Homo sapiens: one gene and its partners. The protein of the gene in region 2 interacts with the protein of the main gene of each other region in a biochemical or structural test. Each region holds a gene or a part of one and is shown on either strand. Other genes may lie near its edges.

Evidence for each region.
Region 1: the proteins of SLC9A3 (region 2) and DLG3 interact in a test that uses a peptide from one of them, tested with the Homo sapiens proteins (one large-scale study listed by IntAct).
Region 3: the proteins of SLC9A3 (region 2) and LIMK2 interact in a test that uses a peptide from one of them, tested with the Homo sapiens proteins (one large-scale study listed by IntAct).
Region 4: the proteins of SLC9A3 (region 2) and NHERF2 form a complex in vitro, tested with the Homo sapiens proteins (2 studies listed by BioGRID and IntAct, with this or other methods).
Region 5: the proteins of SLC9A3 (region 2) and APBA2 interact in a test that uses a peptide from one of them, tested with the Homo sapiens proteins (one large-scale study listed by IntAct).
Region 6: the proteins of SLC9A3 (region 2) and APBA3 interact in a test that uses a peptide from one of them, tested with the Homo sapiens proteins (one large-scale study listed by IntAct).
Region 7: the proteins of SLC9A3 (region 2) and FRMPD3 interact in a test that uses a peptide from one of them, tested with the Homo sapiens proteins (one large-scale study listed by IntAct).

What each region holds. Positions count from the first base shown.
Region 1 is NC_000023.11:70,447,835-70,451,334, reverse strand, and holds part of DLG3 (disks large homolog 3), read right to left. Parts: intron 2,423-3,500; coding exon 2,372-2,422; intron 1,977-2,371; coding exon 1,852-1,976; intron 1,646-1,851; coding exon 1,476-1,645; intron 1,167-1,475; coding exon 1,030-1,166; intron 697-1,029; coding exon 552-696; intron 1-551. UniProt on the Homo sapiens protein: Required for learning most likely through its role in synaptic plasticity following NMDA receptor signaling.
Region 2 is NC_000005.10:514,450-517,949, forward strand, and holds part of SLC9A3 (sodium/hydrogen exchanger 3 isoform 1 precursor), read right to left. Parts: intron 1-3,500. UniProt on the Homo sapiens protein: Plasma membrane Na(+)/H(+) antiporter. Exchanges intracellular H(+) ions for extracellular Na(+) in 1:1 stoichiometry, playing a key role in salt and fluid absorption and pH homeostasis.
Region 3 is NC_000022.11:31,215,298-31,218,797, forward strand, and holds part of LIMK2 (LIM domain kinase 2), read left to right. Parts: intron 1-3,500. UniProt on the Homo sapiens protein: Serine/threonine-protein kinase that plays an essential role in the regulation of actin filament dynamics. Acts downstream of several Rho family GTPase signal transduction pathways.
Region 4 is NC_000016.10:2,036,902-2,039,526, reverse strand, and holds the end of NHERF2 (Na(+)/H(+) exchange regulatory cofactor NHE-RF2), read right to left. Parts: intron 2,573-2,625; coding exon 2,529-2,572; intron 1,990-2,528; coding exon 1,927-1,989; intron 1,771-1,926; coding exon of another isoform or gene 1,741-1,770; exon of another isoform or gene 1,702-1,740; coding exon 1,543-1,701; 3' UTR 501-1,542; downstream 1-500.
Region 5 is NC_000015.10:29,112,974-29,115,894, reverse strand, and holds part of APBA2 (amyloid-beta A4 precursor protein-binding family A member 2), read right to left. Parts: intron 2,020-2,921; coding exon 1,879-2,019; intron 1-1,878. UniProt on the Homo sapiens protein: Putative function in synaptic vesicle exocytosis by binding to STXBP1, an essential component of the synaptic vesicle exocytotic machinery. May modulate processing of the amyloid-beta precursor protein (APP) and hence formation of APP-beta.
Region 6 is NC_000019.10:3,755,193-3,758,692, reverse strand, and holds part of APBA3 (amyloid-beta A4 precursor protein-binding family A member 3), read left to right. Parts: intron 1-3,500. UniProt on the Homo sapiens protein: May modulate processing of the amyloid-beta precursor protein (APP) and hence formation of APP-beta. May enhance the activity of HIF1A in macrophages by inhibiting the activity of HIF1AN.
Region 7 is NC_000023.11:107,557,652-107,561,151, reverse strand, and holds part of FRMPD3 (FERM and PDZ domain-containing protein 3), read right to left. Parts: intron 896-3,500; coding exon 759-895; intron 426-758; coding exon 299-425; intron 1-298.

The DNA of each region.
Region 1 (3,500 bases), on a different chromosome or scaffold from region 2:
GGTCAGGAGATCGAGACCATCCTTGCCAACATGGAGAAACCCCGTCTCTACTAAAAATACAAAAAATTAGCCAGGCATGGTGGCAGGCACCTGTAATCCCAGCTACTCGGGAGGCTGAGGCAGGAGAATTGCTTGAACCCAGGAGGTGGAGTTCGCAGTGAGCTGACATCGTGCCACTGCACTCCAGCCTGGCGACAGAGCAAGACTCCGTCTCAAACAAACAAACAAAAAAACAAAGACAGAACTGGGATCTGGACTCAGTTCTGTGCACTATCCTCTGCGGCTTCTCTCTCTCCTCTTTTTAAAATTCACTCTCCATAGAAATTGTCAAAAATTGCCAATGCTGACTCTATGGCAAGTCTTCACGATGGGGTACTGAGCAAAGTTTTCAATTAGCAATAATGGCGCCTCAGATAAACCTTATTGGCTGCTACAGTGCCACCACTGAGCAAAGCTGCTTGCCCTCTCTTAACAAAGGGTATGAACTTCTTCCCCTCCAGAAACCAGGGGACAGAGCTTTAGACCAGGGACAGGGGCTGATGAGTACGTACTGCTGGCGTAGTCAGGGGGAGCGTACATGTCGTTGAGGTGGAGGCTGCCTGGCTTGGCCACCTTCAAATACACCATATCAGATGTGTTCTTCAGTGAGGCCACAGCTTCCTCGTGCCTCACATCCTGCAGATTGGTGTTGTTCACCTAGAAGAGGAGAGGCCTCAGGCTGGGACTTGGAAGAAGGAGAGGCTTCTCCAGGGAACTCGAGGGATGCCTTTTCAGTGAAATTCAACAGCATGCTAACAAAGGCCCAAGTATAGTGCTGTGAGGAGCAGAGGCAGGAGGTAGGGGATAGGGCAAGACCCTGGCCACAGAAAGAATTAGGGCCTTTGTATCTGGGCAAACACAACACAGATGATAACTCTTGAAATTCCCCCATGATGCCTCATCCCTGAGTGAGGTTTAGGCGGAGTAAGGGGTACTGGAGCTCCTCCTCCCTACCCTACCATTTGGGCATCCCCATGAAGTCTGTCTCACCGCCAGCAGCCGGTCCCCAATCTGTAGGCGTCCATCCTTCTGAGCAGCACCCCCCTCAATGATCTTGGTGATGTAGATGCTGTTGTCTCCTGGGATGTGCTGGTTGCCAATACCCCCAGCAATGCTGAAACCCAGGCCTGAGCGGGAGCCAGCAGGAGGTGGGAGAGGGCCACAAGGAGAGGTTAAAGTGTTGTCGATCCCAAATCCAAACCCCCTCCCCCAGCCAACCCACTGGCCCCACAGGAGCTCCCCCCGGGGGATCCAAACGCTAAGCTGCCATCCTGAGATGAGTAAGGGTGAGGCCTGAGGTCAAAAAAGTAGGCTGTGAGTTGGAACAGGGGGAGTCAGGCAAGGAGTAAGGCCATTCCCTTCCAATTCCCTATGGGGCAAGATGGGATCTGGGGCCTAAGGCTCTGGCTGGAGCACAGGAACCTGGAGGGCCGCACCTTTGGGCCCTTTGAGCAGGTTGACCTCCATGATGGTCTCGGGTGGAGGCTGTCGCCTCCGCACCACCAATCGCACCACAGGGCCTGCCTCCTTCAGCGCCTCCACCGCCCGGCTGTGTACCACCTCCGACACGTCCACCTCATTCACCCGCAGCACACAGTCATTCACCCTGTGGGGGAAGCCCGAGAGGCATGACACTGTGCCCCTACCCCTCCACCCCCTCTCCTGCTTCCTCCCACTTCTCTGTCCTCCCCTCCTCTGCCCTCCCACCCCGCCCTCAGATCTAATGGAAGGGTCATCCTGCCAGGCAGGCTTTCCTCCCCTCATCTCGATCCTGTCCCTGCCACCCACAACCCTGCTTCCAGGCCATCTCACCCCAGCCTCCCATCCATGGCAGCTGCTCCACCAGGGATAATCTTGGTAATAAAGATGCCAGGGTCATCAGGGACATGGGGATTGTCGATGCCACCTGCGATACTGAAGCCCAGGCCAGAGTTGCCCTGCAGAAGTGGGTGGAAAGGCACAGTCTGTTCACTCTGAGGGCACAAAGGAGAGTTCTGGGTACCTCATCTCCCCTTATATCCCAGAGCTAGTTCTCCAGGCCTCAGAAGGGGCCATGGCAGGCTGGGCACATTTGTCAGACACCCAGCCTCTGCTGATCATTTTGGGAAACCCATCCCCTCCCCAATTCCCCAGGCCTCAGTGAGCAAGGTCAATTAATATTTGTTAGTGGGTTGATTGATTGATGCAGTGAAGCAGCCTCTGAGGGCCGCTGTTTCACCATCCTCTAAATGCAGGTCCCCCCATGGGTCTTGAAACCATGATTCAGGGGTCTCCCTTATCCTGGCTCCAACCCTCTCCTTCCCTTTCCGCTTTTCCCCACTGGCAGACTCACCCTCTCAAGTACGATTTCCTCATATTTGAACATGCCATCACTGCCATTCACCTAGGGGGAGACACAGGCAGTTCCCTTAGTGCCCCCTGCCCTTCCAGCCATCTGCCCCTTAGTCAACCTGCCTCCTCCCCTACTCCCACAGAGTAGAAGAGCCCAAGTGCACCCCAGGTCACCTCTTGGCCACAGATGAGGACAGGCTGACCTGGAAGAGGCCGCTCCTCACTCACCCCACCAATCCCTGCTTTGCTTCCAACCATATCAGCCCAAACCAAGCTGCTCATTTAGCCCAGATCAATTGTCTGAGACTGAGCCAGCCAGTGGTGCACTCACCGAGAGGCTGTGCTTCAGTGTCTCAGGGTTCACTAGGAGGGGTGCAGGCCTGGCCTAAGGGGGATGGCAGAGATGGAGCATGGCAGGCAAACCATGCCACACCCAGTGTCCATAGGGGATACCCAGTGGCCTAGACAGATAACCCTTCCCCTTCTGAACCACAGTTCTCCCTGACTGGGGGATCATAGACTCCCACTGTGTCCGAACTGGAAGGACAGCAGACATCATCTTGTCCTATCCCCTTTATGTGACAGTAGGTGACACGGAGGCCCAGAGAAGACATGGGATGTGCCTAAGGGCACACTGGGAATTAGTGACAGAGCAATAGGATATCCAGGTGTTCTTTTGATTACAGTAAGCTCTTAAGGCCACTGATGTTTTGGTCACTCATCCCCGTACCCCAGCAGAGCTCATGGGAAAAAGGACAGTTGCCCCACTTTGGAGCACCTCGTGAGTCTTCACTCTATACCTCTTTCTTGGACTCCAGGAACCCAATTCCTCAAATAGGCAGAAGGAGTCAAAGTCCTAATCCATTTTCTACCAAAGGATTTTTGATTCTGAGCCCTTTGTTTTTCCCAGCAGAAAGGGCGAGGGTGGGATCTGGTCAGGAGTCAGAGACAAAGCCACGGGTGGGACTGGAGCAGGGTAGACAAGATTCCCCATGAGGGAGAAGTTGGTGACCCACAGGCTGATTGGCAGCAGAGTCCATGGTTTTCAATATGTAGTAGCCATGCAAGAAGAGGCAAGGGAAGGGGTCAGAAACACAGGGGTGATTTGGCCAACCCACAGAGATGGCCTC
Region 2 (3,500 bases):
CCTGCCCCCCGAGGCCCATCGGGTCTTGCCTGTCGGGGGCTTTGCTCACTGTGGCCCCTCAGGCAGTCCTGCCCAGTGGCTCCCACATCCAGTAGGTGGGGAAGGAGTGGTACGGCCCGCTGAGGGCCCCATGAGGGCCGGGTTCTAAGGGGAATCTGCCTTCACCGTCTGGTCAGCCCCGTGTCCTCTGCACCAAACATCTGGGGCTGAATCTGAGGACGGAGCCCGCAGTAGCTGCTGTTCTTCCACACTTTGTGTCACCCCCAAAGCTCTTAAAAACAGGCATTTTCAACTTTCCCATTCAGGCTTAAAGAAACCCTTTCCCAACAAAGAACTCAAACCCTTGGACTTTGGCATGACAGCTCAGCAGGCGGTGAGCCTGCAGGTTCCCCGATCCACCAGAAAGGAGGAAGCTGCCAGTGCGTCCCTGGCTCCCGCTCCTTCCCTCTGCCCTAGCCCTGCACAGTCCAGAAGGGGACCCTGGCTCTGTCCCTCCCCAGGGCTGGCTCCCAGAGCCAGATAGGGGGTCCCGGCTGGGATGGTCCAGCACAAAGCCCTCGGGGATGCACTCAAAGGCCGCCCTCCAGGGACCAGGAGCTTGGCACAGGTCACCTGGTCTTTCCCTAAGGCAGAGCCTTCCATGGGGAGACATGGGGAGATTTCTCGGCCCCCCACTCCTCACCCCAGAGTCCATGGGGAGATTTCTCGGTCTCCCACCCCAGAGTCCATGCCATCAGCCTGGAGTCTCTGTCACAGCCCTAACCACCCCCAGCACAGCAGCACAAACGGCCAGGCCCATTCCCAGGATGTGCCGCTCCCCATTTGTGGAATTCCCACAGCCCCTCCTGCTCTGCCCGCCCCTCCCTCCTTCCTTTCAGGCCCCTGTGGACGGTGCACACACGGGAACCCCTTGGGCACCCTGGCTGCTCTCCTGACTCCACCTGGACACGGCCCCAGGCTCCATCTCAATTCTTCCTAGACTGACGACACGACACTTTGGAAATGGACTTGACACACAGCCAGCCCCAAGGGAAGGCTGGCAGTCGGATAGAACAGGGAGCCCAGAGCTCAGGCTTGTAAGGGCACTCGCCAATGTGAGGGAGCAACCCAGAGCTGAACATGGTCATCACACGGCCAGAGTGCAAGGACCACCTGCTGCTCCTGCTTATCCTCCACAGGGTCCCCTGCTCCTCAGACACACACACACATCCCGCTGCTCCTGAAACACCCACACATTACCGCCTGCCACTCACAAACCCATGCACAACCCCTGCCACTCACACACCCACACACTCCCCCTGCCCCTCACACACACACACACTCCCCCTGCCCCTCACACACACACACTCCCCCTGCCCCTCACACACACACACACTCCCCCTGCCCCTCACACACACACACTCCCCCTGCCCCTCACACACACACACTCTCCCCCTGCCCCTCACACACACACACTCTCCCCCTGCCCCTCACACACACACACTCCCCCTGCCCCTCACACACACACACACACTCCCCCTGCCCCTCACACACACACACTCCCCCTGCCCCTCACACACACACACTCCCCCTGCCCCCTCACACACACACACTCCCCCTGCCCCTCACACACACACACACTCTCCCCCTAACCCTCATCCACACTTTTTGCCTCGGGCACTTCGCTCTGGCTATCCCTTCCCTGGACATGCTTCCCCCTAACCCACAGGGCTGGCTGCCCCCTCTGCCCCAGGGATGGCTTCCTGACTGTCTTTGGTCCTTGGTGCCCAGGAGTGCTGCCCCATGGGATATTTGGGTCTCATTTGAAGTGGGATCCCCACTGCCTACAGGGCGTGATGGGCACTGAATGTTTATTGAATGAATATTAAACTGGAGAGAGCTCCTCCATTGCCCAGAGCGCTGGCTGCTGCAAAGTCCAGCATTTTGGGCTACCTCGATAAGACGGATGAGACCATTCAAGCTCCTAAAAGTGGTTGGTATGCTAAGGGTATTGGCTGCCTGTGACCCGAGTTCTATTCTGTGTCCCAGGAGGGTGCCAGGTTGGGCAGTTCCAGCACCAAGTCAGGGCCTGCCCAGGGTGTGTCTGCATCTTCCGAGGTCTGGCAACATCAGGATGGGGCTGGGTTTGTCTGTCTTATTCCAGAAGGCATATAGCTAAGGCATAGCTAAGATTTCAGCTGACAGTGGAGCATGTTTTAGGCCAGGTGAGCGTGGTTTCTCTCTGGGCACATGACCCACTCCTGAGAGAGCTCTGTGTGGGGCAGATGGTGCTCACCATGCTGAGCCCAGATCTGCCAAAGTGCTCTGAGCCGATGCTGCAATTGCTTGTCAATGATCCCACTTTGCAGGTTAAGTCTGCCACTCCTTGGCAGGCGGCGCCTCTAAAGCCATTGTCATCCAGAAGTAGGTGTGCTGCTCACTGGAGGCTCTGCAGTAATTTAAGGAAATAATTCAGCCGAGGAGCTGAGACAGCCTCTTCCTGGGCCCAGTGTCCAGATGGTTTTGGATGAAGCTTACACATGGGAAGCCAATGTTTATCCCTCCACTCCTTCACTCTCCCATGTGTGCATTCATCCATCCATTTGTCCATCCACTCATTCGTTCATTCCTCCTTCACCCACCTGTGGGTGCATCCATCCATCCACTCATCCATCCATCCATCCATCCACATATCTACCCATCCTTCCGCCCATCCCTCCATTTACTCATCCATTCACCCATCCACTCACTCATCCATCCATCAATCCACTCATCCATCCACCAACCATTCACGCATCAGCCATCCATCCATCTGTCCATTCACTCACTCACTCATTCATCCATCCATTCACTCATCCACCTATCCACTCATCCATATATCCATTCATTCACTCATCCATCCATGAGTTCACTCACCCACCCATCCATCAATCCACTCATCCATCCATCCATTCACTTATCCATATATCCATTCATTCATCCATCCATCCATCAATCCACCCATCCAACTATTCACTCATCCATTCATCCAAGCCATCTATCCATCCACTCATCCATCCATCAGTCCACTCATCCATCCAGCTATCCATTCACTCATCCATCCATCAATCCACTCATCCATCCATTCACCCATCCATCCATTCACCCATCCACCTATCCATCCATCCACTCACTCACCCATCTATCAATCCACTCATCCATCTATCCATTCACTCATTCATATATCCATTCATTCATCCATCTATCCATCCATCCATCCATCCACCCATCCATCCATTCACCCAAGCCATCCAGCCATCCACCCATCCATCCATTCACCCATCCATCCATCCATCCACCCATCCATCCACTCGTCCATTCACCGAAACCATCCATCCATCCAAACCATCCATCCATCCATCCATCCATCCACTCATCCACCCATCTGACCATTCACTCATCCATCCATCCATCCACTTATCCATCCATCCACCCATCATCCATCCATCCATCCATTCACTCCATTCATCCATTCGCTCATC
Region 3 (3,500 bases), on a different chromosome or scaffold from region 2:
AAACCATGTTCTGAGACACCTCAGATTCCTCGTGTAACCGGAGAATCGATAACAAATCAAATATTTACTGAGTGCCTGTGATGTCTGTGGCACTGGGCAGGACCAAGTTTTACCTCTTATAAATTTTAACAGGTGTTAGAGCCAGGAGAGAGTTTTGAGATAATGTATAGTCTCCTTGTTTTACCTATGAAGAAACTGAGGCTCAGGGAAAAAAAACGGAGTTGTCCAGGGTCACTCAACTAGTGGTAGAGCCAGAACCAAGGTAAGACTTCTGCAGTGTTCTTTCCAGTATTCCAGGCTGCTTAAGACGTACAGGGTCTGGCACATGGTAAGCCCTTAATAAGTATTTGTGGAAATGAGTTATATATAGTTTGTGCCTCTGAGAAACTTACTGTCTAGTTAAGGTAATTAAGGCAAAAAACAAAACTGCCATGCTGATCAGTAGTGGGATTGCGCCTGTGAAAAGCCACCGCACTCCAGCCTGGGCTACATAGCAAGATCCCCATCTCTTAAAAAAAAGAAAAAAATTGATAAGACAAGCTGTTATAAGGCTTGCGTATGATAACATTATAGAATTTCAAAGATGAGGGAGAATTCTCTTCAAACATTTATTCCACAAATATATATTGAGTTCCTGCTATGTGCTAAACTCTTTTGGCCCCTAGGGATACAGCAAGGAACAAGATAGACCAAATCCCTTCCCTCATGTAGTGTATGTTCTGGTGGGGAGAGATAGACAGCAAGTAAATGTATGAACATCATATTCAGGGATAAATCCATTGAAGAGAAGTGAAGTAGGGTAAGGGGATAGAAGAAGTGAGTTGTCAGGGAATGTGTTTGGCATGTTTAAAGAATAGCAGGGTATCCAGGGTGGCCATCAGTTTTGGTTAGGGAATACTTCTTGAAGTGGGTAAGACTTGAGAAATCTTAAATAGGCTTAAAGAAGGTGGGGAAGATGATATCTTAGTAGGGAAGAAACTTTGGGAGTAGGAGACAAAAGTAGGCAAGTTTCAGGTCTTCATAAAGGGTAGCAAATACGTGTGGTAGAGGCAAGGATTGGGAGGTGGAAGATTCATAGGAAGTGGAAGGTACAGCTGAGAATGTGGGTGCAACCGGACTAGAGGGTTTAATGCCAGGCTGAGGATTTTGGAAGTTTCTAGTCTACAGTAGGCACCGTAGGTTTAGAGAAAGGAAGACTCATGATGTGGGCACAGGGCCACCAATCTGGAGGTGGGTATAGTGGGCCCTGAGATGAGGTCTTAGTGGTAGCAATGAAGAAGGCACCAACCAATAAAAGATGCCTCCTGACATAGGCAGGCCAGGGTGACTTGGATGGTCCTGGATATGTGATGGAGCAGGGTAGGGTCCAAAATGACCACAAGATTTCAAAACTAAATAAAAATCCGTCATGATCAAGGGGCTGTATTAGGCTTTCCACATTCATGGTGGATTTTCTGCATCTTCTGGAGGCTGAGCTGATTCCCAGAACAGGGCTGCCTTCTTGTTAGTGTAACCTTGAGCGGGTCTGATAGGGCCCACCATCACACACATCTCATTTCAATGAGAGGACCTGAAACTGTAGCAGTCTCTTACAAGTCTACCTTCTTTCTCATCCTTTATCTATTTTTATATAGTAGAAAGAATTAGACTATTTTACCTATTAATTTACATTGAATAGTAACTAGAACATGAAACCAATGCCTGGTTTCATTAAAGTGTTCCTTGAACATTCTTTCTGGGATTCTTTTTTATCATGTCTTTCTGCCTGTAATTTGTTTTGTCCAGGAAAGAAAGTCTAAAATGTAGTTAAAGACAGGCTTTGAGCCAGGTGCAGTGGCTCACGCCTGTAATCCCAGCACTTTGGGAGGCTGAGGTGGGTGGATCACAAGGTCAGGAGTTCAAACCAGTCTGGCCAAGATGGTGAAACCCCATCTCTACTAAAATACAAAAATTAGCCGGGCATGGGGGCAGGTGCCTGTAATCCCAGCTACTCGGGAGGCTGAGGCAGAGAATTGCTTGAACCTGGGAGGCAGAGGTTGCAGTGAGCCGAGGTTGCACCACCGCACTCCAGCCTGGGTGACAGAGCGAGACTCCGTCTCAGAAAAAAAAAAAAAGACAGGCTTTGGAGACTAGACCTGTGGTCTAATCCCAGCTCAAACATTTATTAGCTGAGTATTTCAGTTTCCTCTTCCGTAAAATGAGAACAATAATAGTTCTTTAAGACTAGTCCTGATCTCATGGGATCTTTGTATTCAGTTAGCTCATACTTGCGTAGTGCTTAGGACATTGTCTGGCATAAAGTAGTTTTTTTCCTCTATCATTGACAACTGGCAGAGAACTGCTGTATGAGAATATATCAATTGGTTAACCAGTTCTCTGATAAAGATATTTTTATAGGCCCTCCATAGATAAGAAAATGCCTACTCATTCACAGTTGAGTGAACTTCTGGTTGGAAGTTGCAGTCTGGGTGGCCTGAAAGACATAAGAACCATCTGTCTCATTTGTCACTGCAGTGTATTTTGTTAATGTACTGAGTTTGCCTTGCCTGTAGCACCTGGTTTGTCCCTCTCTGACATGTTATTTCTGTGTATATCCATGTCCTTCACACCCCATGAGTACACACCAAGGGCCCCAGTAATTCCTGGCCTACTCTGTGCCTTGTACATGGGCACATAGAAAAAAGTTTGCTGAGTTTGTTTTGAAAACCTTCCCTTCAGATTTTAGAAGTTTCTGTATTCAGCTTAACCTTTTCCCCAGCCAACTTCCTAGATACACACGCAGGAAGGAAGAGAAGTTAGTCACAAATCGGTCCAACTAAGTGCCTGGCACCATGGGAGATATTTTCACATCTATTACATTATTTCTATTAATCCACTTGGTAATCCTGTAAAGCAGGTGGTATTATCCTCTTTTTAAAGATTAGGAGACAAGCTCAGAGAGGTCAAATAATTTGCCCAAGGACACAGAGGCAAACAGTGACAGATTCAGGTTTCAAACACACATACATTTACCCCTCACAAATTTTTCCAAATAAACCAAAGAAGGGAAGAAGAGAATAACAGCAAGAAGGAAACTTTCTGAGATACCTGTGTCTGTGCCTTAACCTGAAAAAGGAGAGGCCCTTGGTTTGGTGTCAGTCTCTCAGAGCTGGAAGAAATCACTTGATCCCTCCTTTTACAAAAGAACAATCCAAGGTTTAGAGAAGCTCGAAAGCTCTTTTAAAAATCATCTAATCTTTTTTTTTCCTGAGACACTCCTTTTGGTAAAATTTGGTAAGCTAGTGAGGAAGAAAACCCTTTGGGTTACAGGGAGAGTATCTAGAGGCATGTTAATCCTTACTGTTAGTCTTTTTGATAGTCACTTCATTAAAATGTGATCTTTTTCTCTTGGCTTTTCCCCAGCAGCTGCTGCCCTGCCCTTCTGCTTTCTGCTTTGTCCCAGAACAAGTGGGATTTATACACCTGACCCGCCAGTTCCCAAGGGGCCCAGGGGTTACCAT
Region 4 (2,625 bases), on a different chromosome or scaffold from region 2:
GGCCCCCCAGCTTCCCAGCCCGGACACCGCCAGCTCCTGAACTTTCATGCCCTCAAAGCCCAGCCTCTGCCAGGGTCCCACCCCTGTTTACAGAGCTACCCGGCCTTGAAAGGGACACTGGGGACCCAGGCAGGGCGCCACAGGGTACAAAGCTTGACCTGTGACTGCTAGAGGTCGCAGGGTGAATTGGGCAAAGGGTGGCCCGTGTGGGTGTTGTGTGGGGCCGGATGGCTTCACAGGGAAGGTGAAGGTGGGAGGCTGAGTCTGCCAAATAAGAGAGATGGGCATGGGCCCAGGATGTGCCACACAGCAGGGGGTCCCATGGGGGTCAGCGGGGGAGATGGAGCAGGGCTGGGAGCAGATGGATGCAGGGCACGGGCTCAGGAACGAGACCGTTTCCAGCTGCTGAGACTCGGGGAGGGGGCTCCCTGAAACAGCCTCATCCCTCCACCCCTCTCACCCCACGGGGAGGAGGCTCAGAAAAGACAGAGGCGTGTGGGTCCCAGGCAGGGCCTGTTTATCCTGAGAGCGCGCATGCGCTATGGCTTACGAGGCAACAGCGGTGCCGGTCGATCGGTGGTCGGTTCGGGGGTGCGGGGCCCGGGAGGGAAGTGCAAAGTCAACAGGGTGTCCACGGGGGAGCCCGCCAAGCAGGGCTGAGCCAGAGGCCAGGCGTCCTTCCCGGGTGCCGCTCTCACACACCTACGTTCCCCAGGCCTGGGAGCTGCCGCGCGGAATGAGGGGCCTGTCCAGAGGCCGCCCTCCTCGGGGACGTGGGGCCTCCATCCTCAGGCCCCTCGGAGAGCCCAGGCCCCCAGCAGGGCACAGGCGCACAGGGTAGCTGGGTGGGGAGCAGGGTGTGGCCTAGGGACCCCCACACCAGGGCAGGTGGGCAGGGGCAGCTCCTACGGCCACATCAGGCCTCCCTGGCCTTACCCAAGGTCCCCACGAAGAGGCTGGGCGCCCCAACTTGGCCACTGGGAAGTCCCAGGGACTCCCACTCAGGACGGCCGCTGCTGAGGGGAGGGGGCGGGGAGGAAATGGTTTGCAGAGAAAGGTTTGTTTTATTGCAATTATTTAGAGCGCGTCCCAAGGGGGAGGGGAAGGGGGAGGGGAAGGGGGGGGGTCTCTGGTATTAAGTGGAAACATGTGTGGAGCTGGAGATCTTTTTGGAAAAAAAGCAAAAACACAAATTCCTTTCAGTCAGCAGGCCCCGGCAGAGCAGCAAAGGCCCTCGCCCCGCGGCTGCCGCGCGCTCGCTCGCTCTCTCTCTGTCTCTCTCTGTGTCTCTCTCTCTCTCTCTCTGTCTCTGTCTCTGACTCTCTCTCACATCTCTGGGTCTCTCTCCCCCTATCTTGCTGCCACAGGCCCCCAGTACCTGGTGGGCAGGGGCAGGATGGGGGCTCACCGGGGCTGGGGCTGATTTCTGGGCAATGGCAGGACCACCCTCCAGTCCACTGAGGCTGGGGGAGCTCGGGGCAGGCTGAGGCCCAAGGTCCGTGCGGGAGGGGTCCCAGGGTCCCGAGACAGGCAGGAAGGGGCTCAGAAGTTGCTGAAGATTTCACGCTTCCTGTTCCAGTCCATCTGTGGCGCGCGCTTGTTGACTCGCATGGCTCGAGCCTTCTCCTTGGCCTCGGCCGCCGTGGGGCTCAGGTGGAGGCCGCTCTCCTGGAAGGGATCTTGCTTCCAGGCACTGCCATCCTGGGGTGAGCACGGTGGGTGGGGTGTCTGGAGTGAGCCCTAGTCCCACACCCCAGACGGTGGCCCCTCCTAGGGAGCAACCAACAGAGGCTGCCTGCTGGGGCTGGGGCTCACGAGGACTTCCTGAACAGAGACCCCACTGCCCGGGCTGACATCTCCACAGACGCCTACCCCAAGGCCTCTAGCAACCCCACGTGTGAGCTCAGGAGTGGAGAACATCCATACCTCAGTGTCCTTGTCGGAACCAGGCAGGTCACTTCGGGACGAGCACGCAGAGCCACCATTGAGCTGGGAAACCAAGGGCAGATTGTGGTTTCACAGACACACACAACACCTGCACACGCACACATGTGCACAGAGGCACACCCCCCCCCAGTGTGTGCTCCTCCACTCGGCAGGGGGCCTCGGGCCTCTGGTGGACTCCAGATGCGGCGGGGCAGGCACCGGGCGCCTGGCAGTGACAGGCAGGTGGCCTGGCCGGCTCATGGTGCAGAGGGGGTTCAGGTGCAGGAATGGCCGGCGTGAGCAACGCCTGGGGTGAGGCCACCGCCAGCTCCCTGAGGAGGCAGAGACTGGAGGGCAACTCCTTACCAGGTGGTGCCCAGGAGAGGACAGAAGGCAGTGGCCCCGACCCCAGGGGCCCCACGTGGCTTGTGTGTGGCACGACCCAGGATGAGACCCACAGGGGCATTAAAGGGAGGTGACAGGGCTAAAATCGGGTGTCACTAGCACACCTCGAGGACGGATCTCCAGGGAGAAGGGGGCCTCTGTCGGGCCTGGGTACCCCCAGAGGCACCCTGTGTCTCATGGGCACCCCACCCTCTTACCTGGGCAGGGCTGGTTCCATTGGTGACGGGTGACGGCAGAGGACCTGTGGGGACAGCGTGTCAGTGGCTGCTCAGCCACCACACCGCACCCACCCTG
Region 5 (2,921 bases), on a different chromosome or scaffold from region 2:
CTCCTCAGGCAAGCAGGTCTCGGGCCCTGGGCTGAGCAGCCCAGAAAGGCACATCGCGCAGCTCTGCTTCTGAGCGTTGCCCTCCCTCCCCCGCCGGGATCTGTGTGGCCGATGTAGGTTTCCGCTGCTCCTGCTCCCGGCAGGGGCTTCCTCCATCAGCCATTCCCCGGCGTTCCTCAACCAGAAACCCACCCCGAGGCCCCTCGCAACTGCAAGCCTTGTTTATCAGCGACTCATGTTCCGCGTGGGCTCAGAGCTGCTGGAAACAGGCACCATAACCTCGGCAGGGCTGAAAGGATTCCAACGCCCCGGCCGCCTCCTGCCTCTTCCCCGTTCTCCCGCCCGCTCCTCCACGGGTGGATTTCCTCACAGGTGTGGGGCTGCTGGCCGTGGGGGCGGCCGCTTCAAAGCATCTACTTGGGAACACTGGCTTTTCCTTTCTTTGAAGCCATCAAAGGGAGGCTGGTGTCCGCCTGGCCCCTCCTCCTCCTGAGCCAGACCCCTGCCCCCACCAGTCCAGGGAAAACAGGCCTCCCAGCTCCCAGCCGACCCTGCAGTGCACAAAATACCAGTGTCCCGATGTGGCTCCTGGAGACCTCATCCGAAGAACAGGAACTAGAGACCCCTCCACCCACCCGCCCACCCACAGGCTGCAAGGATGGTCGCCACGCACTCAGCCTCACAGAGCCACCAGGGGGAGCACCACAGACGGCCCGGCCTGCTGCTGCTGTCCCCAGACCCAAATTCCCTGCCCGGTCCCCAGCGGGCCCCTCTGTAGGCCGGGCTCCTCAGCTCTCAGCCTCCCGCCTCGTGCGGCCACCACGCTTCCCAGAGAGCCTGCAGCCCCTTTGTGCTGAACACCCCTTCACACACCCCTACACACACACAGACACACCCACTCACACTCTCCTCACACCCCATGCCTCACACCCACTCACAGACCCACAGCCACAGCCGTGCACACATACACACTCATGCTTGACACCCCATGCTCACACACACCCACAGCCACACACCCCTGCACACACCCACACTCGCACTCCTACACACCCCATGCTCTCACACACACACGTACATCCGCATACACTCACCCACACACACACACTCCTCCACACGCACACTCAGGTACATTCACACAGCCACACACCCACACCCATCCACTCATGCACCCCTATACACCCACGTGCACGCACACACTCATTTCCCACACCTACCCACACTTACCCACACTCATACATCACATCCCACACACACCCATGCTCTCACACATCCACATGCACACACCCACACTCGCTCACACTACACACACACACACACGCACACCCGCTGCGCACTGGCCAGGCCTCCCCCGGTGTATGTGCCACCTCCCCAGCACCATCCCCCCTCCCAATGATCCTGCCTCCTTGTGAGCTCTGGAGGAAAACCTGCACCTCCCCCACACCATCCTCACACTGCCGTGGAAGCGATGCCAGAAAGAACTGGACTGTGGGGGGTTCAGCCAGTGAAGTGGGACAGGGCAAGCAGCCTGGCTGTGGGAGGGGATGGCCAGCAAGGGCAGAGAGGCAAGCCTGCCAGGGTGGCCAGAGCTGTGTGCCCTGCAGAGCTTCTGAACTGGACATACAGGTCCAGTCCCAAAAGTAGTGTCCAGGGAGCACCCCCAGCAGCCTGTGCCCTCCCGGTTGCTCAGTTAGAGCCAGACCGGGATGGCTCCGCATCACCTGCCGCTCCATTCACCCTTGTCACAGCAGCCCCGATGGGAGACACAGCCTGGCTGACCTTCAGATGCCCTGTGTCCTCTGGAGCGGGGGAGGCTCATGGAGGGCAGGCGGGAGCACGTGGGAACCGGCATGCAGAGGCACACTCAAAGTCCCTCCTTACCTCTCCGACCGAGTTGGACAGAGCTTGGACTATCTTCTCGTGGGCTGTGGCCACCACGCTCTGCCCGTTGATCTCGATGATGCGGTGGCCCACACGGACGCCCCCTCGCTCAGCAATGCCCCCTCTCATGAGGCTGCAGATCTAAGCAGACATGGCCAGGTCAGCACACGTGTTCCCGCCACACCCGACAGGCGCTCCACCACGTCCCCAAAGATGGGACATGCAGAGGGAAAAGCGCCACATGATGAATACGTGCACGTGCAATTCGCTGACTCACAGACAGAGATCCTTATGATATGCAGTATGTTTCTTTAAAACAAGAGAGTTAATGCCATGGTGTGTGGGGAACCACCAAGTTTTCTGACTCCCACGGTGGAACCTGTCCCCCAGCTGCACCTCCCCCAGGGCCGCTCCCTTTGTGGTCAGGCTAGAGACTGGTGACACAGCCCAAGGCCACTGCCACCTGGCCTCCTACGGCACAGCCTGGTTACCATCCTGGAAGACAGGCACTTAGCTGATGGGCGGGCGGGAAAGGAGAGGCAGCCTGTCCCCTGGCCACCAGAAAGGTGGGGCATCTGTTCTGTCAAGGGAAGGCTCTGTTTGCCGGATGCCCAAATGGTCTACATCGACAGGGAAGAGTCACTTTATTCCTACATCCCCCCCCCGCCAAGTGACGTAAGGGCATTTTGTGCCAAATATACTGGTTCTGGTTTTGTTGGAGACAGGGTCTCATTCTGTCACCCAGGCTGGAGTGCAGCGGTGGGGGCTTCCATTCCAGCCTAAAAGTGACGCCAAACAGATGGACAGGAGGGCCTGGGAGCGCCTGTGACCACGAGACTGGACAGAATGGAAAACAGGCGCCGTGCACACCCGTGTTCACAGCAGCAGTGTTCACAACAGCCGAGGGTGACAGCACGGACTAGCGGAGAAACAGAATGTGCTCTAGGCCTGCAGGGAAACAGTACTCAGCCCTGGAGAGGAGGGAGAGTCTGAAGTGTGCTACAACACGGACAGACCTCGGGGACACTATGCTGCATGAAACA
Region 6 (3,500 bases), on a different chromosome or scaffold from region 2:
TTGGCCAGGCTGGTGTTGAACTCCTGACCTTGTGATCCGCCCGCCTTGGCCTCCTAAAGTGCTAGGATTACAAGCGTGAGCCACCACGCCTGGCCAAAGAATACTATTTCTTGACATGTGAAAATGATATGCTAGGCTGGATATGGTGGCTCACACGTGTAATCCCAGCTCTTTGGGAGGCTGAGGCAGGAGGATCGCTTGAGCCGGGAGTTGGAGACCAGCCTGGGCAACGTAGCAAGACCCCATCTCTACAAAAAATGTTTAAAGTTAGCCAGGTGTGGCGGTGCATGCCTGTAGTCCCAGCTACTCAGGAGGTTGAGGCGGGAGAAGTTCTTGAGCCCAGGAGGTCGAGACTGCGGTGAGCTGAGATCACCCCACGCCACTGCACTACAGCCTAGGCAACAGAGCGAGACTCTGTCTCAAAAATAAAAAAATGCAATTCAAATTTCAGTGTGCATAAGCTGGGCGCGGTGGCTCACGCCTATAATCCCAGCACTTTGGGAGGCCAAGGTGGGCAGATCACTAGGTCAGGAGTTCGAGACCAGCCTGGCCAACATTGGTGAAACCCCGTCTCTACTAAACATACAAAAATTAGCCGGGCATGGTAGTGCACGCCTGTAATCCCAGCTACTCAGGAGGCTGAGGCAGGAGAATCACATGAACCCGGGAGGCGGAGGTTGCGGTGAGCTGAGATCACGCCATTGCACTCCAGCCTGGGCAATAGAGTGAGACTCTGTCTCTAAAAAAAGAAAAACAAATTTCAGTGTACATAAATAAAGTTTTATTGGTACACATCATGCTTGGTTATTCATGTGTTGTCCATGGCTGCTCTGATGTTCGAATGGCAGAGGTGAGTAGCTGCAGCAGATACCTTGTGACCTACAAGGCTGAAAATATTTACTCTTTGGCCCTTTACAGAAAATGTTTGCCAAGCCCTGCCCTAAAAGCATGGGAAGAACAATTTCTGGCCCTCTGGAATGTTCTAGACTTTTTTTTTCAGTGGTGCAATCTCAGCTCACTTCAACCTCTGCCGCCCGGATTCAAGTGATTCTCCTGCTTCAGCCTCCTGAGTAGCTGAGATTACAAGCGTCCGCCACCGTGCCCAGCTAATTTTTATATTTTTAGTAGAGACGGCGTTTCACCGTCTTGGTCAGGCTGGTCTCAAACTCCTGACCTTGTGATCCACCCGCCTCGGCCTCCCAAAATGCTGGGATTACAGGTGTGAGCCACCGCGGCCAGCCTCTGTTCTACACTTCGCTAAGGATATAGGTCAGATAGTAAGTTCTGGCCGGGAAGGGTGGCTCACATCTGTAATCCCAACACTTTGAAAGGCTGATGTGGGAGGATCGCTTGAGCCCAGGAGTTCGAGACCAGCCTGGGCCACACAGCAAAACCCTGTCTCCACAAAAATAAAATCCCCCCCCAAAATTAGCCAGGCACGTGGCATGGGTCTATAATCCCAGCTACTTGGGAGGCTGAGGTGGGAGGATCACTTGAGGCTGCAGTGAGCTAAGATTGTGCCACTGCACTCCAGCCTGGGTGACAGTGAGACCATGTCTCAAAAAAAAGAAAAAAAAAAACAGTTCTGTGGTTGCAGAGAGAAAAACTGGTTTGAACCTATAGCTCTAAGAAGGTTCTAGAATCGAGCAGAGCTGTGACACCTAGGGAGTTCCAGGGCTTGGCATTTTGTCTGTTTCTAGGGTAAAGGAATCTGGGCTGATGAGAATGCTCAGAATTGGTGAACAGAGGCATCTGGTTCTACTCAGACTGGAGAATTCTAGAACCATGGAGGGAATAGTTATCTAGTGTTCTATAACCCTGGGCAGAGCTGTCCAATTATAGTGTAATCAGAAAGTTCTAGATGGAACTACAATAGAAATACAACGTGAGCCATATGTGATTTAAAATTTTGTAGTTATCCACGTTAAAAAATTAAAAACAGGTGAAATAACTTTTTTTTTTTTTAAACTGAGACGGAGTCTCGCTCTGTCGCCCAGGCTGCAGTGCAGTGGCACGATCTCAGCTCACCGCAACCTCCGCCTCCCAGCTTCAAGCGATTCTCTCGCCTCAGCCTCCTGAGTAACTGGAACTATAGGCATACGCCACCATACCTGGCTAAGAAATTAACTTTAATAACATTTTAATTAAGCTAACATATTTAAAATATTATTTCAACATACAATCAATATTTTTAATTTACTTTTTTATTTTTTTGAGACACAGTCTCACCTTGTTGCCCAGGCTGGAGTGCAATGGCGCAATCTTGGCTCACTGCAACCTCTGCCTCCTGGGTTCAAGTGATTCTCCTTCCTTAGCCTCCCGAGTAGCTGGGATTACAGGCGCCTGCCACCATGCCCAGCTAATTTTGGTATTTTTAGTAGAGACGGGGTTTCACCATGTTGGCCAGGCTGGTCTCAAACTCCTGACCTCAGGTGATCCGCCCGCCTCTGCCTCCCAAAGTGCTGGGATTACAGGCGTGAACCACCATGCCTGACCTTAAATTACTTTTTTTCATACCAAATCTTCAATATCTAGTGTGTATTTTCTATTTACATCTCTATTCAGTCGAGCCACATTTCAAGTCTGTGATAGATACATGTGCCTGGTGGCTACCACAGTGAATGACGTATCTCTCTAGAACCCCAGAGTGGAGCTCTTGTTCCAGAATGCTTAGATCCTGAAGGATAGTGGGCAGAACCGACTGTGGTGTAGGGTGAATTTCACTTAGTGGTGTCCAGAACGGGGCCCTACACCCGTGGTTCTAAACCAAAGAGCCGTAGTTACTGGTTAGAATGTTCTAGGGCCACTGGCAGAGCTGTCTGGCTCTGGGTAGCTCAGGGAATTCTAGAACCATGAGAGTAAAGCTTTTTTTTTTTTTTCCTTTTTGTTTTTGGAGATGGAATCTTGCTCTGTCACCCAGGCTGGTGTGCAGTGGTGCGATCTCTCTCGGCTCACTGCAACCTCCACCTCCTGGGTTCAAGTGATTCTCCCGCCTCAGCTTTCAAGTAGCTGGGATTATAGGCACGCGCCACCACGCCCAGCTAATTTTGTATTTTTAGTAGAGACGGGGTTTCGCCATGTTGGCCAGGCAGGTCTCGAACTCCTGACCTCAGGTGATCCACCCCCCCCCCCCGGCCTCCTAAAGTGCTGGGGTTACAGACGTGAGCCACCGCACCCAGCCAGGAGTAAAGCTTTATGTAGTTCTGGGCTGGGTTGGGAGTATTCTGGAACTGTCTAGAATTCTCCTGGAACAGAATTGTTTGTTCCTTGACTGGTCAGGTAATTCTTAGAATCCCTGGTGTAGCCAAAGGTGTGAACTACTGAAGGAGATTCTAGAACCACAGGAAGAGCTGCCTGACGCGATTGTGATTAAGATGTTCTGGAATCACGGAGCAGAGAAGTCTGATTCTAGAGTGATAATAAGATTCTAAAACTCCTGACAGAATTGCTATGAGACCTGTCAGAGAGTTCTGGAATCAAGGGTCAGAACCAGCTGGGGT
Region 7 (3,500 bases), on a different chromosome or scaffold from region 2:
TCGGCACTGACTAATTGGTGAAAAGGACCTGAGAATTATCTCCTGCATCTTGGCCCCTTTGCTTTGAGGACCCTGAGCTCTCTCAGTGATGTGTCACTCAGCTGTCTCTTTGGGATGCTCAGGCTTGGGGAAGACTCCTCTCCACAACTGCCCCACACCTGGCCAAGCCGTATGTGCACCTGAGTCAAAAGCAGTGGTGAGGATCCCTAGAGGACCAGACTCTGCTGGGAAACCACCCAGGATCTCCCTGTGGCCAGTAGTGCCTGGAGCACCATGCCCAGTGGTCTACTCTGGATACCTTGGTGCCGCAGGAAGGATGTGTTTGGTGAGCCTTCAGTTGCTGAGAGAGAGATTTCCGGAGGTTCTTCTCTTTGATGACCTGCAGGAGGGAGGGGGGAAGAAAGGGTTCCAGGCCCCACTCCTTCCTAAAAGCAGAAGAAAAGTAAGAGATTAGTGAGAGAGGCAAAGTGGGACAGAGAGAAGATGGTAAGACAGAAATTGACTGAATCTGAGAGGTAGAGATGGAGGAATAGAGACTGGGAGAAAGAAAAAGGGACAGGGATAGGAAAATAACATTAGCCACAGCTCCCTAGTAGAAGCTGTAGCTCTAGGGCTTCATAGTCTAGATATGAGGGACTCCAATTCTCACTCCCATCCCATGTCCTACATTTCTGAAAAGCATAGCATAGCTCAACCAGTGTACCTTTTCCCTACGCAACTATTCGCCCCCCATCCCAACGGGCCGCAGCACAACTCACTCCACATTCTTGAGCGAGATCTTCTGACTAGGTCGAGTGGCTGAGACAGTGATATAGATGTGGAGCGCAGCAAGGCCCAAAAGCATCTCTGGCTTGGGATCCATTCCAAAGCGTTCTCGAATAACATCATTCCGACTCTGTGAGAGAGGGCAGTCCAAACCTATCAGCTGAAGGAGACATTCCTTCCCCACCCCCTGATCTACTCCCTTACATCCCAGACAATACTCATAGTATCAGTAAGGCATGCTAGATCAAGGGACAGAGGAAGGAGCTCCCCTTGGAGAAGAGACAACAGAGGAGGCTCAGGTCTCATAGACACTGTTCACTTTATTCAGCAGATACTAGATAGCCTTCTCAGTGACAGGGGCACACAATGGCAAGGTACAAGCAGACAGTCCAGTTCACTGCAAAAGTGAGACATGGCACCACTCCCTTTCTTTCCTCCTTTTATAAGAGACTTTCCTACTTTTTTTCATGGGGGTTATACTCACCCCCAAGCCATACAAGGCTCCTTTACTAGCTCAGATGGAAACAAGGGGAGAAAGATACTGGGAGGGACTCTCCACAGGGCCCTGGCCCAGAAGCCCAGGGTGAGAGCTGAATTGCAGGGATGGGGGAGGCATTCTTCTTCTTGGTGTCTGAAGGACAAAAATGTTGATGAGTCAATCTTCCCTATGCTATCCTAGAGGAGGTCTCCAGGAACTACTGGCCAAGGGTATGACAACCCCCAAACCCTGAGGGTCACAGCCCCAGCTATCAATGAGTCAGCCTTGGTTAGACCAGTTTCCCATTTTGTTAAAGTGGAACCAGTATGGACTAAGGGACTAGGAAGCCACAGTGATATCACTATAATATAGGAGAGAGTGGAAAAGGAATACATCATCAATGATCATCTATGTAGAAAATTCAGTGGATTCTATTACAAAAAACTACTACAACTACAGTTTTCCCTTGGTATCCATGGAGGATTTCTTCCAGGACCCCCATGGATACTGAAATTTGTGGATGCTTAAGTCCTTTATATAAAATGCTGTGGTATTTGCATGTAACCTATGCAAATCCTCCTGTATACCTCTATCACCTCTAGATTACTTATAATGCCTAATACAATTAAAATGCTATATAAGGCCAGGTGCAATGGCTCATGCCTGTAATCACAGCACTTTGGGAGGCGGAGACTGGTGGATTACCTGAGATCAGGAGTTCAAGACCAGCCTGGACAACATGGTGAAACCCCGTCTCTACTAAAAATACAAAAATTAGCTGGGCATGGTGGCGGGCGCCTGTAATCCCAGCTACTTGAGAGGCTGAGGCAGGAGAATCACTTGAACTCAGGAGGTGGAGGTTCCAATGAGCCGAGAGCGAAACTCCATCTCAAAAAAAAAAAAAAATTGCTATAGTGCTATGTAGGCCAGATGCTGTGGCTCATGCCTAAAGTCACAGCACTTTGGGAGGTTGAGGCAGGTGAATCACTTGAGGTCAGGAGTTTGAGACCAGCCTGGCCAACATGGTGAAACCCTGTCTCTATTAAGAAATACAAAAATTAGCTGGGCGTGGTGGTGCATGTCTATAGTCCCAGCTACTTGGGAAGCTGAGGCAGGAGAATTGTTTGAACCTGGGAGGTGGAGGTTGCAGTGAGCCGAGATCATGGCACTGCACTCTAGCCTGGGTGACAGAGCGAGACTCTGTCTCAAACTAAACTAAAATAAAAATGCTATGCAAATAGTTATTATATTATATTTTTAAATTTTGTATTTTTTATTATTGCACTGTTATTTTTTATTGTTTTTGAATATTTTCAAAATCCACAAATATGGAACCTGTAGATATGAAGGGCCAAATGTAGTGAGTTTACCAAGGTTTCAGGATATAAGATCAATACACAAAAATCAATTGTATTTCTATTCTTTTAAAAATAAATCTTTTTGTATAGAGATGGGGGTCTCACTATGTTGCCCAGGCTGGTCTTGAACTCCTGAGCTCAAGTGATCTTCCTGCTTCAGTCTCCCAAAGTGCTGCAATTACAGACGTGAGCCAACATGCCCAACCCCAACTCTATTTGTATATGCTAGCAAGAAATAATTGAAAATTGGAATTAAAATCAAAATCATTTACAATAGCATCAAAAAATATGAAATAATTAGGGACAAATCTGACAAAACATATGAAAGACCTATATACTGAAAACTACAAAATACTGCTGAGGAAAATTATAGAAGGTATAATTAAATGTAGAAATACTGTGTTCAGGGATTGGAAGGCTCAATATTGTTAGGATGTCAATTGTCCCCAAATTGATCTATAGTTTCAACACAATCCTAATCCAAATCACAGCAGGTTTTGGTAGAAATTATCATGGTGATTCTAAAATTCACATGAAAATGCAAAGGACCTATAATAGCCAAACCAACTTTGAAAAAGAACAAAGTTGGAGAACAAATACTTCCTGATTTCAAGAATTATTATAAAGCTCCAGTAATCAAGAGTGTGATGTTGACATAACGACAGACAAGTAGACCAACAGATCAGAATAGAGAGTACAGGAATAGATCTATATATATATATATATATATATATATATATATATATATATATAGACAACAGATTTTTAACAAAAGTACAAAGGCAATTCAGTGGAGGAAGGATACTCTTCTCAACAAAAGGTGCTATAACAATTGGATATCCATATGCAAAAAAAAACACACACACACACACACACACACACACACGAAACTTTGATGG